7 separate regions of the Homo sapiens genome follow, and regions 1, 2, 3, 5, 6 and 7 are each linked to region 4. The links come from fine-mapping of genetic effects on gene expression. A gene starts in region 4. Each other region holds a variant in brackets. All regions are shown on one strand. Distances are from middle to middle.

Region 1 (4,000 bases), 310 kb after region 4:
TTTTGGCTAAAATGAAGTTTGCATACTATCAGTGACTGATATATCCATGCTACGCTTATTCATATAGCCATGCTATAATAAAGTTGCATGATATTCCCATTTTAATTTTTTATTTAAGGGAACATTATATTTTCACTGAATTTATAATATGCTTATCTCCCAGCCAATAATTATTTTTATAATGTGTAAGTCTCTGTGTACTAATTCCAATATCTGGCCAACTATGAATCTGTTTTTATTGACTTTTTTCTCTTGATTTTAGATAGTATACTATCTGTTGTGGATGAGGCATTGTAGACATTCTAGATTCTGTTATTTTCTTTTGGGCAATTACACTGATCTTGTAGAGGCTTCGTTATAGGACTAGGCTCTTTTGGCTTTGATCTTAGTTCTAAGGTGTGGTTCATAATCCCTCTGGGGTGTCCATGTCCTCAGATGTGATCAAGCCCTGTAGTTTGGCAGGACCTGATCTTCTCTGTCTTCACAGTGGCAAGCAGATGTCAAAATCTCTACTCTGCGTTTTCAACCTTCCTGCTGTCCTCCACGGGGATCCTGGGAATATTATCCTGTGTGCGTGCCCTTCAGGAGCCAGCCTCCGACTCGGGGAAGGTTTACATGAGGGTTTTGGCTCCCTTCTTCCTAGGGCTTTTGCCTGCAATATCCAGGCAGCCTTGAGCATGGTCTCAACCCAGTAAGGCTGCTGCCTTTCAGTCGCATGCTAACCCCCACATGACTTGTGAGTGAGGAGCACCCTTGGGAAAAGCCAGATGAAAGTGATTCATGCAGAGTTACTCTCATTTTCTAAGGGTCACGGCCCTTCCATTTCCTGCCTTCCTGCCTGCATTTGTTTGTTGTTCAGAATTTTCAAATGGCTTTTTAATATTTTGTCCAGAGCTTATCATTATTGGCAAAAGGATGAGTCTGATATAAGTGATTCTGTCATTACTGGACTCTAGAAATCCCAATCAGTAAGTACATTATGGATAAAAAGACAAAGTAGCATGGTTCGCATAGGACTCAGATTTGAAAATGCATTTCCTGTAGATCATTTTTATCCACAGAGAAATTCTGGTTTGCCTGGGACCACCGTAGGAGCTGCATGTGTCTGTGCTGGTGCAGAGGTGTCTGGGCATGGCTGAGGAGAGCATCTGCAAGTGAAGCCAGCAGAGGAGACCACTCAGAGTGGCACTGACTGGCTCGGGGAAGCACTGGGGCCACACGGGGCACTTGATGCCGTGGGAAAGGGCTGCTCTGTAGCTTCAGGCAAACGTGGGCCTCACTTTTATTTTCTCAGCTCTTTGAACGATAAAACACTGACTACTGCAGCCACAACCAAGAATATAACTTCCTCTCTGCTGGCTGAGCCAGGTATCACTTCTTGAGAGAGTGAGTGTGGCTGGCAGCCATGCATGGGGTCCAGGATGACCAGCTCAGCCTCCCCTCGCCCTGCAGGGCTGCAAAAGTGAGACTGTCTTCACACCTCTGGCTCGTTGTCTTCCTGGTTCTGGATCTCTCAGTTCCTCTGTGTCTTTTTCTCCCATTTCCTATCCCACTGCTATGGGTACCCTCCTGGGTCCACCATCCCCCATAGAGGAGTCACTGCCACGTCTCCCCCGAACGTGCCTGACCCTTGCACTGCACCCTCCCCTGGGCCACTGTCCTTCTCCATCACTCACTTCCAGCCAACACTTCTGCCATCACTCACTTCCAGCCAACAGTCCGCGAGTGTGTTTTGGAGATGTGCATACTTGCTCTGCACCTGCCATTATGTTTTTAAGGGGTGTTATTTGTTCTTAATTTTAAAAGTAGGTGAATTAAACATTTTGCATTTCTCCTACTAAAAATACTGCATTGCCTTTTTACTCTGCTGCCTCGATTCTGCCCACTGTATGCCAGTAGCCCGGATGGGAGGAGAGATGCTTTCCTACCTCCTGTTGGCGCCACGTTAGAGAAAGCCTGTCCGGCTCCACACGCGCTCCTAAGGATGGACCTGCGTCAGACATGAACCCAGCTCTGACCTGTAGGATTTTATGATTATGAACATGATATAATTGAATTTGCATTTCTTTTGTGTGTCTTGAGGCTACTCATTTATTCTACTCCAGCAGTCTCCCCAGCTCACTTCCTTAAGAAGGAAAGAAGTGGCAGGTCCAGTCCACTCCAGCATCTCGTTTGGAGACTGAGCTTTATTAAGCATCTCGGCGCTCCTCTCCAGGGACCGGGCTTCATGTGGCTGCAAACGGCTTCTCTCCTTTCTCCTGACAACTCACTGTGGCAGCTCTGTAGTCTCACGCCTTGACAGAATGGCAATGAGATTTTCTTTACAAATCTAAAAGCTGCCGAATTAAGGAAATCTGAGTGTACTTGTTCACCGTGGTAGTCCCTGTCCCCACCTTTAACTCTTCCCTTTTTCTGCAGGCCTGTTGAATTTCCTGGGTGACTGTTCCATTC[A/G]TGCCGTTCACATTCTTTTCTTTCTCTGCAGGTTTTGCATGCAGAAATGTGTCAGTCTGGTGCCTGGCGTCACACTGGATTTGATAGAAAAGTAAGTAGGATTTTTAAGCTCTTGTGGCTCTCTGGATCTGATGAGTTTCTTTTCCTTTTTGAAGGCTCTTGCTTCTCAGAAGTACTTTCTATCAACATGGCATGTTCCCTTTCATGTGGCTGTGTTCTTTTGTTCTCTGATTAAGGCTGTGTTTGTGATTGTCACACTGGGGCTTAGTGCAGGAGATAACCAAACATGGGCCATATGAAAAGAAAAATAATAAAAAGCTGAATTCCTTTGAACATTTAAAAAGTCTCCAGACTTTAAGCCAAAGCAAGAACATACCACTTCGCATACAAATCATTTCTGCTGCCACTGAAATGATAGCTAGATCATAGCTAGCTCTTACCTTATTTTCTGAAACTGTCCCTTTAATATTCTGTAACTTTCCATCCCCTCCCCCCCTGTCGCCATCCAGTTTCCATTTTACTATCTCAGGGCAAACTGATTTCAGAACCTGAGCGATGAAGTGACGGGATTTAGTCAGGCCTATGAAGAGTCAATGGCACTTGCCTCCCATAATCCTTCCAGTCCCATTGGCCAACCCGTCTGTCCCTCGCGTGATCTTTTTGGATCTGAAGTGGTGTTTCAGGACCCGGAGCGTGGCCTGCACTGCCTTGTTCTGTTTGTTTGTGCACCGGATTCATCGTGACTCATCCTGAGTCATCCAGGCAGTATGGAAGAACTTTGGAGTTATTTTAAACCCTTTGGCTCAGAACCCCATTTCTTCTAGAATTAACATGCAAGATAATTGTTTTCTACATCTTAATATACAAAGTTATATCTTAATATTAGGGCCTGAATTTACTAAATTAGGCAGGAAAAGCAACCCCACTTCCAAGTTTCTCTTGTAAAAACGTGCTTGCCTTGTGTATCAGGGGAAAAATGCAAGAATATTATGTGTAAACGTTCATGAGGGCACGGTGAGCTCCGTCGTGGTTCACTCCCACCGTGGAAGGTGGCTGTGTGGCCAACAGGAAGGCCGGGGAAGCGACACTGGTCCTGATGTGGAGTGGTCTACCAGATGTGCTAAGTGAGCAGTCCTCAGCATGGGTACCTAACAGAGCTCAGTGCCCAGAGGCTTTCCAAACAGTGCAAGCTGTGACTTAGAAGACTGTTTCCAAAGGCTAAACAGATAGTGGAGGCTCTCAGAAGCATCACGTGGAAAATAACTTTAAAAAAAAAATGGGACTAGATGATCTGTGCTCCCCTCCCCTTCTGGTTGGTTTGGTTCCCTGACGAGACTGCAGTTTTGCGAAGCTGTTCTTGAGATCTGTTTACTGGTATTGCTGTGCGCTTTCTTTGGGGCTTTTATTTCCCCCTCTGTTTTCTGAGTTTTAGAGCTCTCTATTACCTGTAACGTATATATTGCCCCCGCCACCCCTGCGCCCTCCCCACACACACACCGGATGCGTATCCCAAATCTAAAAATCCAAAATCAGGAATGCATCAAACTGT
Region 2 (4,000 bases), 220 kb after region 4:
GTTCATTTTTAAAATTTTTGATCAGTGCCCTCAAGCATTCTCCTATTCAATAGAAAACATATTTTTCTAGGTATGATAATCTTTCAGATTTTTGGTATGTGTACCTTTGCTAAAAACACATTTAATATTTCTACCTGTCTGGACACCTTTTAAAAATGTCTGGCTGCACCTTGGAGAAACGCTTCATGCAAGCAGATTCTAATTAAAGTAGGAAACTTTACTTTACCATTAAGTTATATGTAAAAGCATTCTAGGGGAGAGTCTTTTAATCATTGAAACATTTTCAAACGTGTTTGCTCATTTGCTTCTTTATTTGTTTTTATGGCTTATTCATTTGTTTATTTTTAAACTTTTTATTATGAAAAATTTCAACATATACCCATCATCTATCTTCAGTCATTTTCAGCTGCCAGTTCCAGTCTCCTTTCATCTGTGCCCCCACCCAGTCCCCCCTTCCCACTCCCCTGGCTGATTAGGAAGCAAATCCCAGACTTCATGTAATTTCACCTGTCAATATTTCTGAAAGAAATATTTACTTTCTCTAAAGATAAGTATGCTTCTAAACACACACACACACATACACACACACACAATGTTTGTTTGAATCAGGATGCAAGTGAGATGAATGTATTGTGAGTTACTTCATCTATTCTGTTAATCCATGTAATTAATCCAAAAGTCAGTCCCTCACCCCAGCACTCTCTGTGCACCTGTCTGCCTGTCTCTTTCTGCAGTTGATTGGTTGAAGAAACTGGATCATGTAGCCTGTAGAATTTATCGTGGTCTCGATCTCGTCAGTGGCTTCTCCCCCCTTGCCCTGGGTGAGCCACACTCACCTCTGCTCCTTGGATTTCCTCTCGGTGGTGGACACAGCCGGGCTCCCCTAGATTCTGGTTCAGTCAGGGAATGTTTCATGTGTGGTGCTGTGTCCTTACTTTAGGATATCTGATAGTCCCTCTGTGATATTAGCAGCTATTGATGATCATTGTCTGGATCTATTTATTAGAGATTATGAAAAGATGGTGTTATTGTTTCATTCCTTTTTTTGCAACAGGGGATCTCACTTGGCCACCCAGGCTGGAGTGCAGTGGCGCAAACATGGCTCACTGGAGCCTCAAATTCTCGGGCCCAAGTGATCCTCCCACCTGAGACTTCCAAGTAGCTGGGACCACAGGCACATGACACTATGCCTTGCTAATTTTTAAATGTCTTGTAGAAACAGGGTTTTGCTATGTTGCCCAGACTGGTTTTTAATTCCTGGCCTCAAGCAATCTTCCTGCCTCAGCTTCCCAAAGTGCTGGGGTTACAGATACGAGCCACTGTGCTTAGCTGTCCTTATTTGTTAACTGGAGTATCTCTATATAAAGAAACCCTCTCATCAATTATTTGGATAGCTCAAGGTACAGTCATAGAGGAAAGCCAGCATCAATACTTACTTTCCTTTATTAACCAGTTTTCAAAATCGTGTGTGGGCTTCTCTCAAAGGTGACTAGTAAGGGGTGTGTGGGTGTGATATGTGTGTGTGCATGTCGTGTGTGTGTGCATGCACGTGTGTGCATGCATAGGTATGTGTGTGGTGTGGTGTGTGTGGCCACCCTGTTGAAGGCACTACCTACTGTATTCGTTTCTCACTGC[A/T]TCTCTCAAAGGTGACTAGTGTGGGGGTGTGTGTGGATGTGAGTGATGTGTGTGTGTGCACGCATGTCAGTGTGTGCGCATAGGTGTGTGTGGTGTGGCGTGTGTGGCCACCCTATTGAATGCATGACTTACTCTATTCGTTCTTCACCGATGTCCACGTCGTTCCATCTTTGTGTTGGCCCCTGAGCCTTGTGATGCAGTTCTCGCGGTCCTCAATTGCTTCATTTTGATATGGTATGACAAGCCAGCATGTTCTGTGCCATTTTGTACTTCTTCTACCCTAGGCCTGAAATCAGCCACGTGTCTGTCTCCAGGGAGTCTTGGTTTCCTTCCATGGGAAGTGGTATGGAGAGCTTAATCTGGGCTCCAGGGCTGCTCATTGACCCTTGTTCAGCCCCCTTTCTCTATGGGTGTTTCAAAGATAAAATACGAAGGCGCTCTTACACATCCAGGTTCAGGTCTGCAAGGTCTGCTTACTCTCATGGGTCCTACAGCTGTATCTGCTTCTTTCCACATGGAGTGCTCAGATTGTTCATGAACACCAACGTAATTACCCATTCTCTTATCCTGCACCACACCTGGCAGTTTCAGAAAGCAACACCAGCACTGCCACTGACGCGGTTACTGAGAGCCGCTGCCGAGGCATAGCCGCTGCTGAGGCACTCGCCCTTCCTTCTCAGGTTAGGCACAGATGTCGAGTGACATTACCCTGTATTTTTATTTATTTATTTTTGAGACAGGCTCTCACTGTGGCCCAGGCTGGAGTACAGTAGCAGAATCATAGTTCACTGCAGCCTCAACCTCCTGGGCTCAAGCCATCCTCCCACCTCAGCCTCTCAAGTAGCCAAGACTATAGGTGCACGCCACCATGTCTGGCTACGTTATGTTATGTTATGTTATGTTATGTTATGTTATGTTATGTTATGTTATGTTATTTTTTTGAGATGGAGTCTTACTCTGTTATCCAGGCTGGAGCGCAGTGGCATGATCTCGGCTCACCGCAACCTCCACCTCCCAGGTTCAAGCGATTCTCCTGCCTCAGCCTCCCAAGTAGCTGGGATTACAGGCACATGCCACCATGCCCAGCTAATTTTGTATTTTCAGTAGAGATGGGGTTTCTCCATGTTGGTCAGGCTGGTCTTGAACTCCTGACCTCAGGTGATCCACCTGCCTTGGCCTCCCAAAGTGCTAGGATTACAGGCGTGAGCCACCGTGCCTGGCCTAATTTATTTATTTATATTTTTAGTAGTGATGAAGTCTTCCTATGTTGCCCAGGCTGGTCTTGAACTCCTGGCCTCAAGTGATCCTCCTGCCTCAGCCTCCCAAAGTGTTAGGATTATAGGCATGAGCCACTGTGCCTGGCTGGATTACTTTTTAAAAAAATTAATTTTGCTTTGTAGTTATGTAAAATATTTCATGAGTCCAAAGTTAAATACACAAAATGAAGTTTATTGAAAGGAGCCTGGCTGCTCTTCCTGTCCTGGTGAGCCTATTTTATCTTTTCTTCTGTAGGTCACCACTGAAATGTTTTAATAATATGTGTACCACATGTGATGACACGTATGCGTAACCTTGGGTACATTTATATACGCACACACGCACACAGTGTTTTCTCTTTAGGGAAGTGCTGTATGTTGTACATGGTTTCTTCTACCTTGCTTCTTGTTGCTGTATTAGACTGGAATCCACGTGTCCTCATTGGAATCAAAGCTTCATTGTTTCCTCTAAAGCAGAGTTTCTCCAGCTTGGCCCGATTGGCATTTGGATCAGCTAATTCATGATTGTGGTGGTCGTGTGCTCATGTGCTGTGCGGACAGTCACAGGATGTGTAGCAGGTCCCCAGGCCATTGCCATCAGATGCCAGCAGGGCCCACTTCTCCCAGCAGTGCCGACCGAGCCTGTCTGCAGACAACACCAGTGCCCCCGAGGGCAGAGTTGCTCCCAGCGGAGATGGTGTTTCTCGGGTTCATTGGGGGGATTCTGAGCACCCATTTCAGAAGTGGATTTGGCCCCATCTGGAAGCAATAGCTTTTCTTTTTGGACTTTGAATAATAAACCAGCTATTCTAGTTCTTGTCTGCCTCTTCTGCAAATTAAGGAAGGAAGGAAGAATTGTTACTGAATAATACATAAAGGAAAGAGTCGATGATTTTACAAATTTCACGTAACTCTGCCCTTACTGGGCAGACACGTGTTGAGAACATTACGAGTTACTGTGACCTTGTAGTCCCTTTGGGTTCGGTGTACGCAATTTCCTACTCTCAGCATCTGCCAGCCCAGACTCTGGCAGACTTATGCCAGCCCTGGGTGCTGTAGGGTCAGCCACCCCCTTCCACGCAGGGTGGGCGTCCAGATGGTGCTGTGGG
Region 3 (4,000 bases), 190 kb after region 4:
TTCCTTTCCTTTTCCTTTCCCCTTTCCTTTCCTGACAGAGTCTCGTTCTGTCACCCAGGCTGGAGTGCAGTGGCGTGATCTCGGCTCACTGCAACCTCCGCCTCCCAGGTTCACGCCATTCTCCTACCTCAGCCTCCCGAGTAGCTGGGACTACAGGCGCCCGCCACCATGCCCGGCTAATTTTTTTGTATTTTTAGTAGAGATGGGGTTTCACCGTGTTAGCCAGGATGGTCTCGATCTCCTGACCTCGTGATCCGCCCACTTTGGCCTCCCACAGCTGGGATTACAGGCGTGAGCCACCGCGCCCGGCCCCCCAAAAATTTTTCTTTAGAAATGATATAAAGTATGAAGAACTCTTGGAAGATCTTCGTCGGAAAGATGAAGGAAGTCTTGTTTGTCTCGTAACCCTGGAGGCCACTGAGTATCTCTCCCTCCCATCTGCCTGTGCCCGTGTATCCTGCGTCTGTTGTGAAATGTTTACCATGCCTTGACTGGGACTTGTGGGCTGAGCAGGGAGGACAAACGTTTTATTTTTAGTGACTGTCCCTCAAAGAGCTATACTTTCGATGCCTTTCAATATGAAATAGTAAAAATCTTGCCATTTGATATTACCTAAAATATTACTCTTCTCCAAAGTTGGTTTGCCAAAATAAATTATGTTTATTATCTACTCTTTCTCCTTGATATTATCTAAAATATTATTCTTCTCCAAAGTTGGTTTGCCAAAATAAATTACGTTTATTATCTACTCTTTCTTCTTGCTATGAGTTTAAGAAGACTCTTGTTCCCTCTCCCTCGATCAAGCCTGCTGCAGACACAGAAGATGGAGACTAGAAGAAGTGCTAGGACAAGCTACCGCTGTCTTCAGGGTGACCCTGAAGAGTTAGGTCCTTGCCGTGAGTATAGGTGAGGCCGAAACAAGTGACCCGGAATCTAATCACAGCCTGGGCAGAGTGTAGGAAGGGCGCAAGGATGAAAATGACTGCTTGGTTGGACGCAGCAAAATGTTGATTATTGGCCATATATGCGTCACTTTGCTAGTTGCTGTGGATATAACAATAAGTGATACCTCCTACTGGCAAAGAATTCTAAGTCTGATAGGGAAAATAAACATCATTCATTCATTCATTCAGCAAATGTTTATTGGGATTCCACTGTGCTTCAGCCTCTGTGAGCAGCGCCCAACATTGCCCCTGCTGTAGTGGTGCAGAGCCTCGTGGGGAGATGGGTGGCCGAGCAGTCCGAGAACCCACCTAAGGAGTGGATGGTAAACTGAGGCAGCGCCTTGAAAGGAAGAATGCTGTCTGTGAAGGGTGATGGCGAGTTCTCTTGACCAGAAGCCATGCGAATTACTGCCCGTGTCCTCTGATCGAGCCTTCTAGGCCACTACCGTATCCTCAGAGAAGGCTTTATAGTCCAGCCAACAGCACTCCAGGAATTGTCTACTCAAGGAATGCAGTAGGTGGCACTTGTTGAGTGCATTCTGTGTGGTTAGGACACTGATTCATCAGGGCCTGGATTTTCCCAATAACCCCGGGAGGAAGGCGTTCCCGTCTCCACGTCCCTTTCCCAGCGTGCCAGTGCTGATGGTAGGTTCTGCTGGATCCCTGCCCCGGTGCATGTTGATCTTTCCAGTACAGCTTGTTGCCCCCCAGGGAGGCAGGGAAGTAAGTCCATACCACATTGGAAGAGTTAGACGGGTCTTGGAGAGGCTGGAGGGGGACAGCCGGGGGAAGCTCCATAGAGGTGGTGACGTCTGAGCTGGGAGCGAAGGGAGACCAGGGCTGGGCAAGGTGGGCAAAGTGTGAGCAGACATTCCAGTGGAAGCCAGAGGAGCAGGCTGGACTCTGCATTTGTTCCTACTGGAATAAGGAACAGGTGTTTGAGTGGATACAGAATAAGGACTTGATCGCCTTCCTTGCTGACAAGTGCATCGTGAGGTGCTCTTTTTTCTACTCATCCCACTTTCGAAGTTTCTTTTTCTTGACTATTTTGACTTAAGATGCCCAGAGTTAATAAAGTTGCATAA[T/C]TTATCTTCCCATTTAAAAGATGTCAGTGGAAGTCATAGCAAATAGTAAGCCCTTCGCACCCATGACCTTTGTTTAGCTGAGTCTCTTGGGACAAAGATAACAAGTTGTTGACACACGGGAGAGAATGTTAGTATTCTTTGTGGTTTCATGGGACAAATATGGAGGCTCCTTCATTTGCTTGATACTAACTGCAGTTTGGACTTAAGCCTGCAGAGGTGATTGGAAAGATTTTCAGTGAAATGAGTGGTGTAATTGTGATTGTGATAATGCAGGTGACTGCTTTTCATTCATTCGGTTCCCACCGGCAGCCTGGCATTTAGAAAAAAGTTAACCTTTCTGTGAAATCATTTTAGTGGGAAAATCCACAAGGGTCTGCCATTCTGTCAGCAACAAAAATGCCGTGGGCAGAACGACCTTCAGATGGGATTCTGGAACCACAGGGGGTTTAATGCAAACAGATGACATGGAAGCTGCACAGAGGAAACGTCTGGTTTCAGGCGCGGGCATCTAACCTGCCCTGTTCTTCAGTGCAGGTTTCAGATACCACAGCAGTAAACAGTTACCACATTTCCCTTAGTGTAGCAGGCCTGAGGGGTAGCGGAGAGGCAGGTTGGGCCTCCACTAGACAAAGTTTATCCTAGTGAGTTCTTTTGGGTTCAACTTGTCAAGGAGGGTGGCTACTGAGAGGTTGCCTGATAATCTCCAAGTTTCTTCCATCTCCATCCATTTTTACTCATTACTAGCCTTTATAAAGTACAGAGTGAGATAATTTTCATCATGTTCCTAGGCTGGCAGGCCTGGGTTCTAAGTATTACTTGAGGTCATAGAGCAGGCTTGTGTTCTTTGTAGAAAGGCCTTTGATAGGTGGCCGCAGGAGGTCTTCGCGCCCTGTCCCCTCAGCATGCACTTGTTCTCCCAGAGTCGGCCATGGCCATTCTTCCAGGCTTCTGGAGAAAGGACCTCCTCACAAGCAGACAGCAAAATAAAACAATGACCAGTGTCAGAGAAGATGACACCCCCGTCTCCCATGTTTGCACGCCTCAGCAGTTCTCAGCCGTATGCCTATGCTTTTACAAGTGAAAACCAGCTCTTTAGGTCACTTGCGTCACAGGGATCTCCTCTTTTCTGTCCAGCTACCTGGCAGTCATTATTCCTCATTGTTTATTGTTAGAAACCTTTTGTTCAGCAGAGCGGCTGCCCCAGGGATCACAGGCAGAGCGGGTCCTGCTGGAGTTTAGTCTCAGGACAGCGGCTTGTCCGCATTCGGGTTTGAGCATGAGAATGTTGTTCCCATGATTTCAGAGAAGAACAACTGTTTTAAAGGTCAGATTTTATTCTGTCCAGTATTCTGTAAAGGACGAGTTGAATATCAATGAAAGAAAGAGCTTTAGTAGCTGTGGCAGTGCTGTGGGTCTGCTGCCTCCCGGGTGCTTCTCACACCACAGAGGCTGGAGAGCCAGGTGCCCCTGCAGCCAGGGCTTTGCTCGGGGACACGCTTGCCGGAGGCCAGGCTACCCTAAGTGTGCACCGAGGGAGGTGGTGGGACCTGCCCGTTCTGCTGGCTCAGCAGGAGCAGCCAGGGGCTGGGGGCTTCTGGGGCTTTCTAGGGCGTGGGAATGTGGGTAGGGGGCATTTCCCAGCTGCTGCACAGGCCACTGGTCCTGGCCTGCCTTCCCTGAAAGCTGAGTCCAAATTCTTCTTCTCTTGCCCTTGCACGGAATCTGTAAGTCACAGAACACCCGGAGTGCTGCCCTTGCTGCATTAATAGCACCAGTGGTTTCTGGGGAACTTCCCTGACCTCATCCCTGTTGCATACAGTAGTTCATTCTTTCTTTTTTTTGAGACGGAGTTTCACTCTTGTCGCCCAGGCTGGAGTGCAGTGGCGCGATCTCAGCTCACCGCAACCTCCGCCTCCCAGGTTCAAGCGATTCTCCTGCCTCAGCCTCCCGGGTAGCTGGGATTACAGGCGT
Region 4 (4,000 bases):
TTTCATTCCCCAATCTCCGCTCCTTCCCTCTCCCTCCCTCCTGAGGTCCTTCCTTCTGATCTGTTTTTCAGTTACATAACAAGCCTTAAGATGGCACTGTTTAAATCTGTCCGGCACATTTTGCGGTCTGAGCAGGGTCACGTGGCCTTGCTCCGCACCGGGCACCCCCCCCCCTCCCCTTTTACAACCTTGTTTGATTTCTGCGACTTCAAGACAGAGCCTCCAGCGCTCATCCAGGCGCCCTGGGTGATAGACTGGCTGGCCTGAGTTGGTGACTGAGAAACCTCAGGGATTTGAAAGATGCCAGGACTTGGGTCACTCAGAAAAGAAAACCTCAGGGTAGGGGTTCAGGACAGAAGTGGGGAGGAGCTGGAGATCCTGAGAGGACACCGGGGGCATGGCAGCCGGGAAGAAACCTGCTTAACAGCCTCAGCGGCCCGGGGAACGAGAGCGCCCAGCCCCAGCCTGCACCCAGCTGTACGCTGAGGCTGGGGACCAGGGAGAGACAGGCTTTCTTAAGCAGGGAGGGTTTGAGCCAGCGACAGCCACTGTGCAAAGTTACTGAGGATTAAACAAATCAGACTTGAAAAATCCAGCGAGTGTGTGAGTGTGTCTGGATGGGGGAGGGGGCACTATGCAATCCCCTTTCCCAGAGACAGCCCCAGCCCAAGGCACCCAGCCCTGATAGAAACACCGACTAGAAGCCCAGAACCTGGGAAGGGGTGCGGGGAATGAGAAAGCGGTGCAGGGGTTGGGGGTAGCGGAGCGGCTTGAGGCTTGCACAGTGCAGAGCTGGGCTGTTAGGGATCGGGACCGAGGCAGGGTCGGGCAAGCAGGTGCAGGCAGGCAGCACGGCTCCCCCTGGCCCCAGTACCTTTCTCGAGCTCGCTGATCCGCTGGTGCAGGGAGGTCAGGGCGGTCTCGATCTTGACCCTCTCCTCGGTGTCGTTCCTGGGGCCCCCCTTGCCCTCCTCCAGGGTGTTCACCCGGGACAGCACCTGCCTCTCCAGCTCATCGATCTTGCTCTGCAGCAGATCCTTGAGGCTGTTGGTCTGGCTGGAGGAATTGAGGCGGCTGTACTGCTGCGGGGTGCAAGGGCGGGGGAAACCACACCGTTAGGCGAGGCGCGGGGACCGTGCTGGAAGGCCCGCGGCGCGGTCCCCTCTGGGCGACTGCGGGGGCGGCCTGGCAGGGAGCTGGGGCGAGTGGCCGCCGCGGGGCCTCGCAGGCGCGGGGAGGCACCGGCCGGGCACCCGCGCGGCTGAGGCGAGGGCGGGGGATGCCTGGCCGGGTAGGGAACGGGGTGGGGGAGGGCAGAGGGGCGAGCGAGCCGGAGGGGGAACCGGAGCCGAGGGCGCGCGCGGACCTCGAGGTTCTCCAGGCGGGTTTTGAGCGATTGCAAAGTTTGCCCGAGTTGGCTGAGCGTCTCGGCGGCCGGTGTCCGGGACAGGTCGCCCATGGTGTTCTTGCCCGAGCCGGGCTGCTTGCGGCCGCCGCCCGCCCGGGCCTCGCCGGCTCCGGGGTCCAGCGTGCTCTGGCTCTCGCAGCGGCCCAGCTTGGCGGTCAGCTCGCGGATGGTCTCCTTCTGGCTCAGGATGGTCTCCTTCTGCTGCAGCACCGTCTCGCGGAGCTGCAGCACGCTGCTCCGGAGCTCCTCGGCGCCGCCGGCGGCCACGGACGCGGCGCACATGTCGGCGTCCACGGGCACCGAGGTGCAGATGAAGCGCGTCGGCCCGAAATCCTGGGCCCCGGCGCCCAGGAGGCAGAGGGCGAGCAGCGCACAGGTGCGCGCGGCGCGGCCGGCCGGCATGGCTGCGGGCACCGGGCGCTCCGGGCCCGGCTCGGCTCGGCTGGGGCTCGGCTCCGGCTGGGACCCGGCTCGGGCTGTGGCTCCGCGAGCGGCCCGCGCTCTGGGCGCCGCGCTCTTCGGCCGCGCGGTCCACACCGCCGCGCTATCAGGCCCCCACTGCCGCCTGCGCTGCGGAGCCCGCGCCTTTTATGCCGCCGCGGGAGGGGCCTCGAGCCGCCGACGTCAGCGGGGGAGGAATCCCGCTTTAATTGTCCGCGGCCCGGGCCCGCGGCGCGGCGGGGGTCTCACGAGCGCGCCACCGGGGCTGCCTCCGCTCGCGTCCCCCCCGCCCTTCTGGGAGCTGCCGCGGCCCCCTCCTCCCCCGCCCCCGCCTGGGCCGGCGCTGCTGCCCCGAAGGCTCCGAGAGCTCAGGGGGAAGGAAGTCGGGCTCCGGCCCCGGACTCGAGGATGGACCACCTGCGTGGTGTCCCCGAACCTCCGACGGGGCTCCAGGCGGGCGGGAAACCACCGCGTCCGGGAGATAGAATTCGGTTCGGCCCTCCTGGCTGCACTGAACACCCTTGGGCCGGGGTCGTTTGGAGCCGGGCTGGGTGCCCAAGGACCCAGGTCGTCAACACCCGAGTGCCCGGTGGTCAACGGCTCGGAGTGGGGCCTCGCGGCGCCACTAAGTCCAGAGCGGGGGTCACCGGGCCGCCCCGCGTTTCTTAGATGTCCGTGTGCTATTGAGAAGCCGCCGGGCAGCCTGGGTACAGGGACTTCCCACGGGTCGGGGCCCCCGGCGCCTCCCCTCCCCCAGCTCCCGGGCTCTGTGGACCCGGCCCCGTCCCCGGGGGACTGTCAGTCCCCACCCCGTGCGGGCGGGGCGCTGGGGACTTCTCGGAGGCAGACCTAGCTGATCGAGCCTTTCCTGTCCGCGGCGCCGGCCCGATCGCGGGCAGGCGGCGTCGCCGGGGCTGGACGTTCGCAGCGGCGCTTCGGAAGGGGGCCCCGCGGGAGCAGCCGCCCGCGTCTCCAGCAGCTTCCCCTTGCCAGGCGCCGCGCGCGCCCGGTATCCCCGGGTGTCCACCTGTGCGTGGGGGGCTGTTTCCCGTCTGTCCAGCCGCGCCCACTTCTCAGGCCCAAAGGCCAGCAGGAAGGGTCCCGGAGGTGGCTGGGGGCGTCCACCTGAGAAGCTCCGCTCTCGCTCAGACACCCCACCCGGCACCCGCGCACTCGCGCCTTCATCTGGACCGCGGGGCTCGGCTCCCGAGATCGCGGTCCGGGTTCCGGCGCCGGGCTGGGGGCTCAGGACCAGGGCTGGCGCAGCCGCCCCGCCCCGCCCCGCCCCGGGGCTATCAGAGCGGTCAAAGCCTCGGAAATCCCTCCGTCCACGCTCCCGTGGTACAGAGAAGGAAACTGAGGCTCCGAGACTGCGGGGCCGGGCTACAGCCGTGGCCCCCCGACCCCTCCCCGCCGCCCCCGGCTTCTCTGGTCTCTGCGTTCTGCAGCCTTTCCCTGCGCGCAGCCGGGGGCTGGGGGTCCCCAGCCAGCAGGGACCCACGGGCAGTCCCGGGTGCCGGGATCGGGCGTCCGCCCCTCGGGCGGGAGCAGAGGCCGGCTCGATGGAGACCTTTTTGAGAAATGGCGGCCTCTACCCGCCCCCCAGCCCCCGAGCGCCCGCCGTCTGCGTTCAGCATCTCAGCTTTTAAGCCTCCCTGAGCCGGGGCTGCGTTCTCGTTGTCTCCTTCGGCCGCCGCTTCCTGGCGCCAGAGGGACCCCGCGGCCCGCACGGGCCTGTCCTCGGCTCCGCTCGGAGGGTGTGCGGGTTCCCGCTCCGCTGGCCCCGCTTGCCCACCACGGCGCGCCCAAACCCACGCGGCCCGCGGCCCCTTGCGTGCTCTGCCGACCCCGGGCCGCAGGAGGGGTTAGCCTCGCCGGTCCCCACGCGGGGTCTGCGCCGGCAGCGCCACGGGCTGGAACGCGCCTCGGGAGAAATTACCCGCGCGGGGTCGCGGCGTCTTCTGCCCCAACTCCCGTAGGGAGCCGCTAGGCGGGTGCCCTCCTGGCCCCAGCGCTTTGGCCTCGCCGCCCTCCCGCACGCGTCCAGTGGGGAGGCCGCGCCCGTCAGGCCTGGAGCCGGACCGTGCCCAGCCGAGAGCGCGCGGGCGCGGGAGAGGAGCCCTGCCCTGCCCAGGGCAGGCTGTTTAGACG
Region 5 (4,000 bases), 22 kb before region 4:
CTGTCCGGACATTTGCATGCAATTCCGGGCAGCCCCGGATGCTTGTCTGGCTTCCAGCCTGGGAAGTGGCATCGAGCCCTGGGAAGAGGACAGGCTTCACGGCCACAAAGAGCTCAACTGAAGATCTGAATCCTGCATTTAGTAGTGGTGTAACCGGGGTCAGGGGCTTTCTGAGCCTGTTTCCTCCTCTGTAAAGGAAGGCTAATGTGTAAATGTGAGCTTGACATCTAGAGCCACATCCAGCACAGAGGAGGCGATCAATGATGGCTGGCTCCTTCCCTTCGTCCATGGCTCACGCCTTACACCTGCTGCTCTAGGCAGAAATGCCCCCCTGAGAACCCCTGAGAGGACTTCCAGAGACCCCACCCTGGAAACTGATCCCACCCTCCTCCTTCTCTGTGACTTCCACACAGCCTCTTCCTCATCATTCCTTCCTACCAGACTAAGGGGCCTTGAGGGTGATACCAGGTGTTCTCCAGACAATTCAACACCTAGCAGAGTGCTGCGCGGGGCTGCCAGCATAAATCAATGACATCTTTCAGCCCAGAGGGTTCTGAGAGTGATTGCATTTGACAGCACTTCCTGAGGCGCCCCTGGCCTCCTGAGGAATGAGCTGTTCAGGGCATCTGGCAAGCAGACACCAGTCCATGCTGGCACCCTTCCTTCTGGAGAGTCACCCAAGGGAGCCACCGATCGCTGCTAGAACTGGAGCAGAGTCCTCAAACAACAGTCTGCACACAGACAAGACCCGGGATATTTCTTTGATCCAGCTCCTGCCTTACAGGACTTCATCTTCACCCATTCCTGAGGAAGGAGAGAGGAAAAAAAGACCTCTCATACACCCCCTCAGTCTAGTGTTTACTGAGCACACACTGTGATCTGGATAAGAGAGAAACTCTGCCGTCTTGGTGCTTTCAGACAATACACATCAAATTACATTATCAACGATGCTGGATGGCGCTAAGAGCCGGGGAGGGAAAGCAAGGGAGTACAGGCCACAGACCGTCCTGGACTTCGAGTTTGACTTACATTTTGGCTTTGCCATGGTACAAACGCCATACACATTCAGTATACTCCTCCGCTTACAGATGGGGTTACATCCGGATAAACCTACCGTAAATTGCCTTACAATGCTTTAACCTATGATGGGTTGATGGGGAATCTAACCCCATATGACAGGAGCATCTGTATAGGAAGGGGGCACGGTTTTCAACAGGTGGTCGCCTCACTAAGTGGGAGTCACAGGGTTTCAGGGGAGGAGCGTTCCAGGCCGCGGTAACAGCAGGTGCAAAGGCCCTGAGGCAGGACGGGGCAGGGAGGTCCAGAGTCCACCGCGCAGAGACCCGGGAGGCCGGCAGGCACGGTGAGGACCTTGACTTAAACCCAGGAAAGGGGAACCACACTGGGGCATGACCTCCTGTACTTTCCGAGATCGCTCTGGCTCCTGTGTTGAGGAGACTCAGGAGGGGAAGGTGGAAGCGGGGAGACCCAGCTGAGACGCTACTACAGTCATCTCGGCGGGAAAAGACGGCTCGGAGCAGGGTGGTGGCAGAGGTGGGAGAAGAGGTCAGGTCTGGGGAAATTTCGAAGGCACAGCCAACAGGATGTACTGCCGGGCTGGATGCGGGGTGTTAGGGGTCAGGGAGGCCGCCAAGGCTCTGCCTGAGAACTGGGGAGGGCCAGGGGCACCATTTACGGAGCTGGGGAACAGCAGGAGCTCGTTTTGTTAGCAGGTGCGAGGCGCCGGGCATTTAAAGGCGGCCTGACGGGACCGGCCGAGGCGGAAGAACGGACAGGGCCCTGCGGGACCGCGCTCGGATCCGCCTCCTCCCTGACCTCGGCGTCCCCGGCTACTGCCTCCAGAGCCGCTTCGGGGCCGACCCCGGGGACTCTTCCCGCCTGCGGCCTCGCGCCAGCCCGGCCGGCTCGCCTAGTGCCCGGCGCCCAGAAACGCGTGGAGCTGGGAGAGGCCACACAACCCACGCCGGAAGCCTAAC[C/T]CCGTCGGCCCCCGCGGCCGGCACCGGCCGGAAGCCCGCGAAGCCTAACTCTCGCGAGACGCCTCCTGAGTCCCGCCTCTCCGCGGTTCCGCCAGTCGCCGCGCTCCTGTCTGCGTTGCTGTGGCAGCCCCGCCGTGCGTCCGCGTTCCCGGAGCCAGCGCGGCGGCGCGCCTGTGCTCGGGGCTTGGCCGTAGCTTTTCCTCAGGTCCCGCGCGGCGCGCCCCTGTGTCGCAGGCGCCCTGCCGCTGCCCGCAGCTTTTGGGGGGTTCGGGGGCGGGGGAAGCAGGGCCGCAGAAGGCCCAATCGGAGCCTTCTGACACCCGCCCCGGCCCGCCGCCCTCCCGGAGCTTCCGTCCCCGCCGCCTGGCTCCTTACTGACACGCGCGCCGCCCCCGGTCGCCCGTTTTCCCTGGGCTCCGGCCTCCTCTCGCTTCCAGCCCTGGCCTGAGGTCCTGAGGGCTCCCTGGAGGGGGCGGCTTCCCAGCACCCAGCGTTTAACAGGGCCCTTTCGGCCTCCCTGTCCCCCAAGCTCAGAGTTGGGGTCTGCAGCAGGGGAAAGAAGGAGGGAGACTGGGCAGCTCAAGTTCCCCAGACCGCACCTATCAGACGGAGGGCGGCCCGCTCCCGTCAGAGCCCGACCTCGGCGGACAGGGGAGGGGATGGGTTGAGAAGCGGGAGAAGGCCACTAGCTGGAAACTCCCTGACGACAGGGACACCGTTCTCGCCCCAGCCCCAGCGCTCGGCCTCCGCAGAGCCGGCCCAACGAAGGAAGAATGAAAATATGAACGTGACATGATGTGGGCTTGAGAGGCCGCCTTGTTCTTTGGATTCACCCAGAAACCTGACTGAAAGGAAAGTTACTGCAACTGGGGAAAAGCACAGTTGGCTGGAGAATTTGGTTTAAAAATAAATAAGTTTTAAATTACGTAACTAACACGTGCTTGGTGTAGAAAATTTGGAAAACATATGAAAGTACGGTATAAAAATCCTCGATCCCACTGCCACATAGAACCACTATTAACATGTCAGAATCGTTTCTTCGGGTGTTTTTTTTTCTTAATGCATTTATATTGCATATACATTTTTTCTCTAACAATATATTGATGTGCCCCAGTCCCCCACAGACCCTAATGTATGAATGGGAATGGAGGCGTCTGAAATGTGACTCACAAAGAGTTCTCTTTCCTCCCTAACACCCCATCCCTGCCTCACCCCTTCAGCGCATTCACAGCAGCACTGGGACTCCGGACTCAGACAAATGTGCACTGAGCTGGCTGGTGCTCTCATAGCCTCTGGCCCCAGAGCTCCACCTTCCCCTGCAGAGGGGGTCCCGGGAGTGTCCTCAAGTGCTCCATGCCCCATGTTCCTTTCCATGGCACCAAATTCTTCTGACCTCCTTCTAGGTGAGGGGTGAGGGGGTGAGGTAGGGGGTTGGGGAAGAGTGTCCCCATGAGGCCTGAGGGGCCTGCTAGTGCAGGGGAGGAAGGGAAGTTCAAGCAAGCAGGCTCAACGGAGGGCTCCACCCTCCAGGTACGGCCAGGTCCTGGGAGAAGGAGGGGAAGCAGTCTGGTCCAGGAGAGAGGCAGCAAGGGCAGATGCTAAGCCTTTGCCTCTGCACTCCCTGGGGACCTCTGGGGACCCCCCCCCCCACCCAGCACTAGTAATCAAAGGAGGACAGACACCTACACACGTGTCCCATATGTCTCACCCTAGCAGGCAGCGAGAGGATGCCCAGTGTTACTCTGGCCCCCTGGAAGGCTAGCTTGCTCTCCTGGGCACAAGTCAGAAGCAGTGTGAACTGGAGTGGGTGGTGGGGGACACCCCTCCCGGTGAGCCCCCCCTCCGACCCGGCTGTCAGTGATCCACAAGTCTGGCCCATCAGCCCTCCCTGCTGAGCACACAGTCCACTGACCCTTCTTCAGAATTGTGGGAATGACCTCACTGCCCCTCCAAGCAACGTGTTGTGCTGCCGCCCACATCAGACATCCGGGGAATGGACTGCA
Region 6 (4,000 bases), 99 kb after region 4:
AAGAAAATTTGGGGGGTATTTGATTGGGATTGCACTGAGCCTATACATCAATTTGGACAGATTTGATATCTTTTCAGAATTGAGACTTCTGGTCCACACACATGGCATATCTCTTATTTAGATAGGTCTTCTTTAATTTCCCTGAATTAAGTTATATGCTTTTCCCTGTAGAGGTGTTGCCCATCTTTTGTTGGAATTCTTTTAAGTACTTGATATTATTTTGATGCTGTCCTAAGAGGCAACTTTAAAAAATTTAAGTTTTTAGCCTGTTATTTGGTAGGTATATAAGAGTAAAAATTATTTTTTATATTGCTTTATATGCAGCATTCATGATATCTCCATGTCATCAGGAGCCCTGGCAGCCATGCACACAGCTTCCTGCCCCCTTGATCCTGAAGAGTGTGTAAGGCTGCTGGGGATCGGATGCAGTTATGTAAGGGGTGTGGATGCAGAGGAGCCAGCCGTGGTTTCATGCTGGTCTTGAGTGTCATTCTAATCATGAGGCCACCTTACACCCCTCTACTCCAGGACATCCCACAGATCAGAAGGCTCATGGGAACCCAGATGGAGAACCAGCTCCTAGCACTGGCCTTCCCCATTTATCTTAACTGGTGCATTTCCAGGGCAGCAGGGCTGCAAGAGTCAGCCCTACAGCTGTCTGCCCACATGCCTGGGTCGGGGGAAGTTTTGGGCTTCATGTCAATTCTTGAGTTCCCGAGAGTTCGTGTCCAGGTTGGGAATAACTTGTCCCACAAATGCCTGGTAGAACTTGCCCATAAGGTCATGTAATCCGAAAGTGTTGTTTGTAAAAAAATTTTTAAAGTTCTGATTTAAGCTTTTAAGATGGTTTTTTTTTTCTTTTTTCTTTTTTTTTTTTTTTTTGAGACGGAGTCTCGCTCTGTCGCCCAGGCCGGACTGCGGACTGCAGTGGCGCAATCTCGGCTCACTGCAAGCTCCGCTTCCCGGGTTCACGCCATTCTCCTGCCTCAGCCTCCCGAGTAGCTGGGACTACAGGCGCCCGCCACCGCGCCCGGCTAATTTTTTGTATTTTTTTAGTAGAGACGGGGTTTCACCTTGTTAGCCAGGATGGTCTCGATCTCCTGACCTCATGATCCACCCGCCTCAGCCTCCCAAAGTGCTGGGATTACAGGCGTGAGCCACCGCGCCCGGCCGGTTTTTTTTTTCTTTTTGAGTCAGTTTTGGCAAGTTACATTTTAAGAAGACTTTGTCTATTTCATCTAGGTTTCAAATTTATAGGCATAAAGTTGTTTGTAACATCCTCTTGTGATCTTTTTAAAGTCAATGGGACTGTAGTAATGTTTCCTTTTTATTCCTGACATTGAGATTTGTGCGTCCACTCTTTTTTGTTGTTGTTTTTTTGAGACAAGATCTTGCTTTGTCACCCAGGCTGGAGTGCAGTGGTGCGATCATGGCTCACTGCAGCTTTGAACTCCTGAGCTCAAGCGGTCTTCCCCGCTTAGCCTCCCAAGTAGCTGGGACTACAGATGTGTGCCACCAAGCCCAGCTTATTTAATTTTTTTTTTTTTTTTTGTAGAGACAGGGTCTTCTTATGTTTCTTAGGCTCATCTTGAACTCCTTGGCCTCGAGTGATCCTCCTGCCCTGGCCTCCCAAAGTGCTGGGATTACGGATGTGAGCCACCATGCCTGGCCCCCTAGTTTATTTTATATCTTATTATTTCCTTTTTTCTACTTTCCTTGGGTTTGTTTTATTACCTTTTCCGCCATTCTTGAGGGGGAGATTCTTGAGATGAGTACTTACCTTATTAGTTTTCAGCCATTTGTCTTTTCTAGTGTATGCACTTAGCATTTAGAAATGTAAATGCTTAATGGCATTCAACAAGTAGTAGTTTTTAAAAATATATTTATGTATTTCAGAGACGAGGTCTCCCTGTGTTACCCAGGCTGGTCTTGAATCCTGGCTCCTTCCGCCTTGGCCTCCCAAAGTGCTGGGATTATAGGCATGAGCCACCATGCCTGGCTGGATATACAGTATTTTTGTTCAGTTCAAATTATTCTCTAAATTTTATTTTGACTTGATCAATTTATTATTTAAAAGTGTTGTAATTTTTAAACATAGAAGACTTTTTCTAGGATTTATTTTTGATTTCTTAATTGCATTTTGATCAGTAGACGTCTGTCAGCAGGGCAGTAGCAGGTGCACCGCACGTCTGTAGGGGGAGCCATCCACACCGTTGCCATGTGCGAATGGC[G/GC]CCCCCTCGTGTTGTGGATGGTGTAGGTTGCACCGCTGTGTGCACACGTGTGCATACATGCATGCACACGCTTGGAATTTCAGCTGCTCTGTCCCTTATAGGCCCGTGCGTGGTCAGTTTTTGTAAATGTTCCCTGTGTACTTGAACACGATGCGTGTCTACAGCTGTTGGTGCCACCTTTTATACGTGTCCATTAAGTCAAATATTTTATTTGTGGTGTACAAATCATTTACACTTTACTGATTTTTTTGACTGTTTCTATCAGTAACAGAGAGGTGTATTAACACTTCTCACCATCATTGTAAATATGTCTATTCTCCTTATTAGACATATTTAGATAGAATTCTCTGCCCATTTGTGCTTCATTTATATTTTGAGGCCATATTGTTGTAAAACTGTTGTATCTTCCTGGTAAATTGGAGTCTATATTGTTGTAAAGTGACTCTTTATCCCTAATAAAACTTTTTGCCTTACAGTCTGTTTTGTCTCAGGATAGTTACACCAGTTTTCTCTTGGTTAGTGTCAGTCTTGTTTATTTGTCCTTTTATATAAGTCAACACTTCTGTAGCCTTGTATTTTTCATATGTCTCCTATAAACAGCTTGTAGTTGGATTAAAACAGATCAGTCTGATGATTTTTGTCTTTCAGTTGGAGCACTTAGTCTACTTACAGCCATTGGGGCCTAAATCTGCCATCTCTTTTGTGCTTTCTATTTGTCCTTCCTGTAATGTTTTTTTAAATGCCTTTTTATAGATTGAAAATATTTAATTTCTTCCCTTTTACTATTTTTGAAGCAGTGCACTGTTTTTCTCTTGTAATGGTTTCTTAGAAATTACAGTAGGAATACTGAAAAAAGTACAACGTCCGTCATGACCTTTATTCTTTTCTTAGACAACCCAAGACTTAGGAAATTATTTAATCCGTTTGTTTCTTGTATGTGAGTATTGCTGTGTACAGTATTTTATTTTTAACATCCCAAGTTACCATCCTTGTTTTCGGCAGTCATTGTTCTTTCAGGCTGATGCACATGCTTTTGACTCTTCGCTCTCCTTTCCTTTAGCGTCTCAGAACTTTCCTATGGGGCCACCTACTTTGACTGAAAGACTTCAGAATTCTTTTCTCATGACGGTCTACTGATGCCACATTCACTTCGTTAGTCTGAAAATATCTTTTTTGTTTGTGTGTTTTTGTTTTTTTGAGACAGGGTCTCGCTCTGTTATCCAGGCTAGAGTAAAGTGGCATGACCTTGGCTCACTGCAACCTCCACCTCCTGGGTTCAAGCCATCCTCCCAACTCAGACTGTTGTGTAGCTGGGACAGCAGGTGTGTACCACCACACCCAGCTAATTTTTGTATTTTTTGTAGAGACGGGGTTTTGCCCTGTGGCCCAGGCTTGTCTCGAACTCATGGGCTCAGGCGATCCACATACCTTGGCCTCCCAAAATGCTGGGATTACAGGCGTGAGCTCCCATGCCTGGCCTCTGAAAATGTCTTTATTCAGTCATAATTCTTTTTTTTTTTTTTTGAGATGAAGCTTCGCTCTTTTTGCCCAGGCTGGAGTGCAGTGGCACGATCTCAGCTCGCTGCAACCTCTGCCTCCCAGGTTCAAATGATTCTCCAGCCTCATCCTCCCAAGTAGCTGAAATTACAGGCATGCACCACCATGTCTGGCTAATTTTGTATTTTTAGTAGAGATGGGTTTCACCGTGTTGGTCAGGCTAATCTTGAACTCCTGACCTCAGGCAATCCATCTGAACTGGCCTCCCAAAG
Region 7 (4,000 bases), 47 kb after region 4:
TACAAAAATTAGCTGGGTGTGGTGGCGGGCGCCTGTAATCCCAGCTACTCGGGAGGCTGAGGCAAGAGAATTGCTTGAAACCAAAAGGCGGAGGTTGTAGTGAGCCAAGATCGCACCACTGCACTCCAGCCTGGGCAAAAAAGCGAAACTCCATCTAAAAAAAAAAAAATTGTAGAAACATACAAATAACATAAAATGTACCCTTGTACTCACTTTTGTGCACAGTTCCGGGGCATTTGGCTCATTCACATGATTGTGCAGCCTTCACCGCCATCCTTCTCCAGAGCATTTTCATCTTCTCAAACAGAAACTGTCCCCATGAAACATAAACTCTCCACCCCACCCACCGCCCCCAGGCCCTGGCAGTTTCCATTCCACTTTCTGTCTCTGCAAGTCTGACTGTGTTAGGGGCTTCATGCGAGTGGAAGTTGACAGGATTTTTTTTTCTTTGAGACGGAGTCTTGCTCTATCGTCCAGGCTTAGAGTGTAGTGGCTTGATCTCGGCTCACTGCAACCTCTGCCTCCCAGGTTCAAGCGATTCTCCTGCCTCAGCCTTCAGAGTTGCTAGGATTACAGGCGCCCGCCACCACACCCGGCTAATTTTTGGGTGTTTAGTAGAGACAGGGTTTCACCATATTGGCCAGGCTGGTCTCAAACTCCTGATCTCAGGTGATCCACCTGCCTTGCCTCCCAAAGTGCTGGGATTACAGGCGTGAGCCACCGCACCCAGCTCAGCATTTGTTCTTTTTTATTTGGCTTCTTTCGCTTAGCATAATGTCCTCAAGGCTCCTCTGTGTTGTAGCCTGTGTCAGTGTTTCACTGCTTTTCGAGGCTAAATAAGGTTCCATTGTATGGAGACACCAAGTTTTGCGTATCCGTTCACCTAGCAATGAACACTTGGGTTGCTTCTGCCTTTTGGTTGTGTATAAAGATGCCAGGAACATGGGTGTGCAAATATTTGTTCAGGACAAGTCACTTGGTGATGAACCAAGAAGGGGACAGGTGTGGAGGGTGGGGCTGCTGGAGCTGCCAGCCTTGGAGGGAAAAGCAGAGTGGGGGGTGGTGGGCTGGAGGAGGTCCGGAGCCTGGGGGAGGTGCAGGGGAGGGAGTAGGGAGTGGGGATGAGGTGGGCAGCAGCAGGGATATCTGTAGGAGACGCTGCCTTCCCATGATACCACCTGCCTTGGGCAGAACTATGTTTTCTCCGTAACTGGGGTCTCCCCAGCATTCCAAAGAGGTAGGGATATTTGGGGAACCTGAGAGCTGTCAAGAAACAGCTGTCAGGCAGCCGAACCTAGACTTGCTGGCCCATATTCAGGATTGCTTCCAAGGTCGGGATCAGCCAAGCCTGGCGGGAAAGAGGCAAATGCTGGTCACTGTCTGGCAATGCATGATGTGGCAAAGGGACTGGGCTGCTGTGATACAGAGCACTGCTCATATGCATGGGTCAGCTAATGCCTGGTAACAAACAGGACCTCAGGGGCTGCACTAGCACTCAGGGCTTAGCAAGTTTCTGTATTGGCCAGTTATTGGCACAATAATGATGAATGCCAAACCAGTCCCAAGCTCGGGGGCTAGCTCAGCATCACTGATTTCCTGGGCCTGTGGCTGGCATGGCTCTGCCTCACACCACAGATTGGGCTGGGTCTCCCACCCTCCTGGGCTCGCTCGGCTTACTGAGGCAGCTTCTTGTCCTGGTGACGGCAGAGGCAACAGAAGGCAAGCCCACCCACGCACGCACGTCTGCAAGCCCCTGGCTTTGCTCTGCCTGTCTTGCTGGCCAAAGCTAGCCTCAAGGCCACACTGGACGTCCAGGGTCAGGGAAGCAGATTCTGCCTATGTGGGAGGAGCTGCAAGTCACATGACAGAGGGCAGGGACACAGGGAGGGGTGGTGAGAATTGGGGCAAAGCTGCCACCTTTCTGGAATGTTCCAAAAGAAGATGGACGACTACTGCTCCTCGGCCCTGGAAGGGAGAGTTCTTTTTTCCCCACTATAAAGTTTTCTGATTCCAATTCCAAAATGCTATGACTCTTAATCAATGCCTGATGAACCATACTTGAGCAAACATAATTTATTCTCTGTCAAGATCATCCTGAGGGGATCGGGTGTCTTTGTTTCCCTCCTAAATCCCCTGCGAATTCATCTTTTTTATTCCAGGCTTACTAGGAAATAAAAGATTTTGTCTGAGGGCTGATGGGTATTAGCAGAGCTATATGGAGCTTGAGTTGAAACTTGGAATGTTTGTGGATCAAAACCGAGCTGTGCTGGCAGCGTCTGGGAGGAGGGTGCACTCGCTGAAACTCTGCCCGAGTTGTGGCTGTCA[G/C]CTGCCTCGACTGCCAGACCAGACTCGCTGTTTTGGGGCCGGGTGGGGGGGACGGCGGGGGGAGTGTTGTTACGGATTGTGCTGGAAGGTTTTCTTGCTCTTGGCTTTTTTGGTGAAGGGCCTGGATTACTGCAGAAAATCCAGCTTATGTGTCCAAGGGCAAAGCAGGCCTGTTTATCTTTAACTTTTACATGCTTCACACATCTCCTGAGGTTTGACTCTAAGCAGGATTTGTGTCTTCCCTGATGCAAGAAAACAGGAGGCAGGCGCTGAGCTTGCAGGAGGCCACACAGCCAGTGCACAGCTTGCCATATGCTTAACGTGGCTCTGAGAAGAGAGGGTTGTTTTTTTAATATTAAAAATGGCTATGGGAAAATCTGCCCTAATGCTATTAAGCAGTGCTGATATGAGATGTGTGTGGCTGTAACTTTCTGATTGGATTTGGGATCTAGGCTGCAGCCAGCCAGACGCTGGAGACACATTCCTGAGCCACCTCAGCCCTTGCCTCTTTGCCGAGCTGCGGCTATTCTTTGGGGCACGCAGGTAGATGCAGAGAGACTGAAGTCTTCAGAGGTGGGTGTGCACAGAAGAGTGATTCCCAGATCAGGGAAGACTTTGGCCCCCAGATGACATTTGGCAAAGTCTAGAGGCCTTTTCAATTGTCACAATTGGGAGGAGGGAGGTACAGTAGCATCTGGTAGATAGAGGCCAGGGACGCTGCTCGACGCCTACAGCAGATGGACTCACAGCCAAGAATCATCTGCCCCTAACATTATTCAGCCTTAACTTACAAAGGAAGGAAAGTCTGGTGCATGTGTGCTGTGGTTTGAGTGTGTCCTCTCCAAAATTCTGTGTTGAAACTTCATGTCCCTGTGTCCTAATTGCCTTAAGAGGTGATTAAGTCAAGAGAACGCCTCCCTCCATAAAGGGATTAGTGCCCTTATAAAAGGGCTTTGAGGCTGGATACAGTGGCTCACGCCTGCAATCCAGTACTATGGGAGGCCGAGGTGAGTGGATCACTTGAGCCCAAGAGTTCAAGACCAGCCTGGGCAACATAGTGAGACCCTGCCTCTAAAAAAAAAAAAACTGGGAGTGGTGTCACATGACTTTAGTCCCAGCTATTTGGGAGGCTGAGGCGGGAGGATCACTTGAGTACAGGAGGTCAAGGCCATGGTGAGCTGTGATTGTACCACTGCACTCCAGCCTGGGAAACAGAACGAGACCCTACCATAAAAATACTACTACTAATAAAAGAGCTTTGGTGAAGGGAGTTTGTCCCTCTTGCCTTTCTGCCCTCCACCACGTGAGGACACAGCGTCCCCCCCACCAGGAGGAGGCAGTGCTCCAAGTGCCATCTTGGAAGCCAGGCTGGACCCTCTCCAGACAGCGAACCTGCTGAGCCCCGGATTTCGGACTCCCAGCCCCCCTGGCAAAGGCCCGTGTTCTCTTCCAACATGGTCTAGTGGCTACATCTTTGGGAGGGGGCGAATGCTGAGGCCTCACATGGTGGACCCACTCCCTCTGGCCCTTTGATAGGGACCCTAATTCCATCCGTGAAGTCTCCACCCTCGTGACCTCATCACCTCTTACGGTGTCACCTCTTAATCCCATTACAATGGTGAGTAAATGTCAACATATGAATTTTTGAGGGGACACCATCATGCAAACCATGGCA

Alleles and levels. Positions count from the first base shown, and alleles are read on the strand shown. Sizes are in standard deviations (SD) of each study's normalised expression. Not every link is listed here.
With allele G in place of A in region 1, the expression in lymphoblastoid cells of the gene that starts at base 1,971 in region 4 is lower (small effect, 0.35 SD a copy in TwinsUK).
For the expression in sigmoid colon of the gene that starts at base 1,971 in region 4, allele C in region 7 goes with a lower level than allele G (small effect, 0.18 SD a copy in GTEx).

What was found. PIP is the estimated chance that this variant, and not a neighbour inherited with it, causes the effect.
Region 1: its variant is fine-mapped to the expression of NPTX1 in lymphoblastoid cells (TwinsUK, PIP 0.95).
Region 2: its variant is fine-mapped to the expression of NPTX1 in unexposed skin (GTEx, PIP 0.97).
Region 3: its variant is fine-mapped to the expression of NPTX1 in whole blood (TOPMed, PIP above 0.99).
Region 5: its variant is fine-mapped to the expression of NPTX1 in whole blood (TOPMed, PIP above 0.99).
Region 6: its variant is fine-mapped to the expression of NPTX1 in whole blood (TOPMed, PIP above 0.99).
Region 7: its variant is fine-mapped to the expression of NPTX1 in sigmoid colon (GTEx, PIP above 0.99).

Annotation. Positions count from the first base shown.
Region 1 is chr17:80,788,968-80,792,967 of GRCh38, forward strand. It overlaps RPTOR (regulatory associated protein of MTOR complex 1), which reads left to right. Exons shown (of 34, transcript NM_020761.3): 7 at 2,483-2,542. Among named protein-coding and RNA genes, the nearest start is that of CHMP6, 200 kb to the right of the region's middle. RefSeq lists a silencer at 1,289-1,368. The variant A/G (reference allele first, on the strand shown) is at 2,452.
Region 2 is chr17:80,689,764-80,693,763 of GRCh38, forward strand. All of the region lies in intron 3 of RPTOR (regulatory associated protein of MTOR complex 1), which reads left to right. Among named protein-coding and RNA genes, the nearest start is that of RPTOR, 150 kb to the left of the region's middle. RefSeq lists an enhancer at 3,942-4,000. The variant A/T (reference allele first, on the strand shown) is at 1,636.
Region 3 is chr17:80,665,532-80,669,531 of GRCh38, forward strand. All of the region lies in intron 3 of RPTOR (regulatory associated protein of MTOR complex 1), which reads left to right. Among named protein-coding and RNA genes, the nearest start is that of RPTOR, 120 kb to the left of the region's middle. The variant T/C (reference allele first, on the strand shown) is at 2,030.
Region 4 is chr17:80,474,637-80,478,636 of GRCh38, forward strand. It overlaps NPTX1 (neuronal pentraxin 1), which reads right to left and starts at 1,971. Exons shown (of 5, transcript NM_002522.4): 1 at 1,367-1,971; 2 at 875-1,082. The coding sequence starts at 1,810. RefSeq lists an enhancer at 425-958.
Region 5 is chr17:80,452,727-80,456,726 of GRCh38, forward strand. No RefSeq gene overlaps it. Among named protein-coding and RNA genes, the nearest start is that of NPTX1, 22 kb to the right of the region's middle. RefSeq lists an enhancer at 1,691-2,520 and silencers at 1,728-1,937, 2,198-2,457. The variant C/T (reference allele first, on the strand shown) is at 1,998.
Region 6 is chr17:80,573,294-80,577,293 of GRCh38, forward strand. The region is part of intron 1 of RPTOR (regulatory associated protein of MTOR complex 1); the gene reads left to right. The region is part of intron 2 of LOC105371922 (a long non-coding RNA gene); the gene reads right to left. Among named protein-coding and RNA genes, the nearest start is that of RPTOR, 30 kb to the left of the region's middle. RefSeq lists an enhancer at 2,056-2,350. The variant G/GC (reference allele first, on the strand shown) is at 2,232.
Region 7 is chr17:80,521,786-80,525,785 of GRCh38, forward strand. No RefSeq gene overlaps it. Among named protein-coding and RNA genes, the nearest start is that of RPTOR, 21 kb to the right of the region's middle. The variant G/C (reference allele first, on the strand shown) is at 2,326.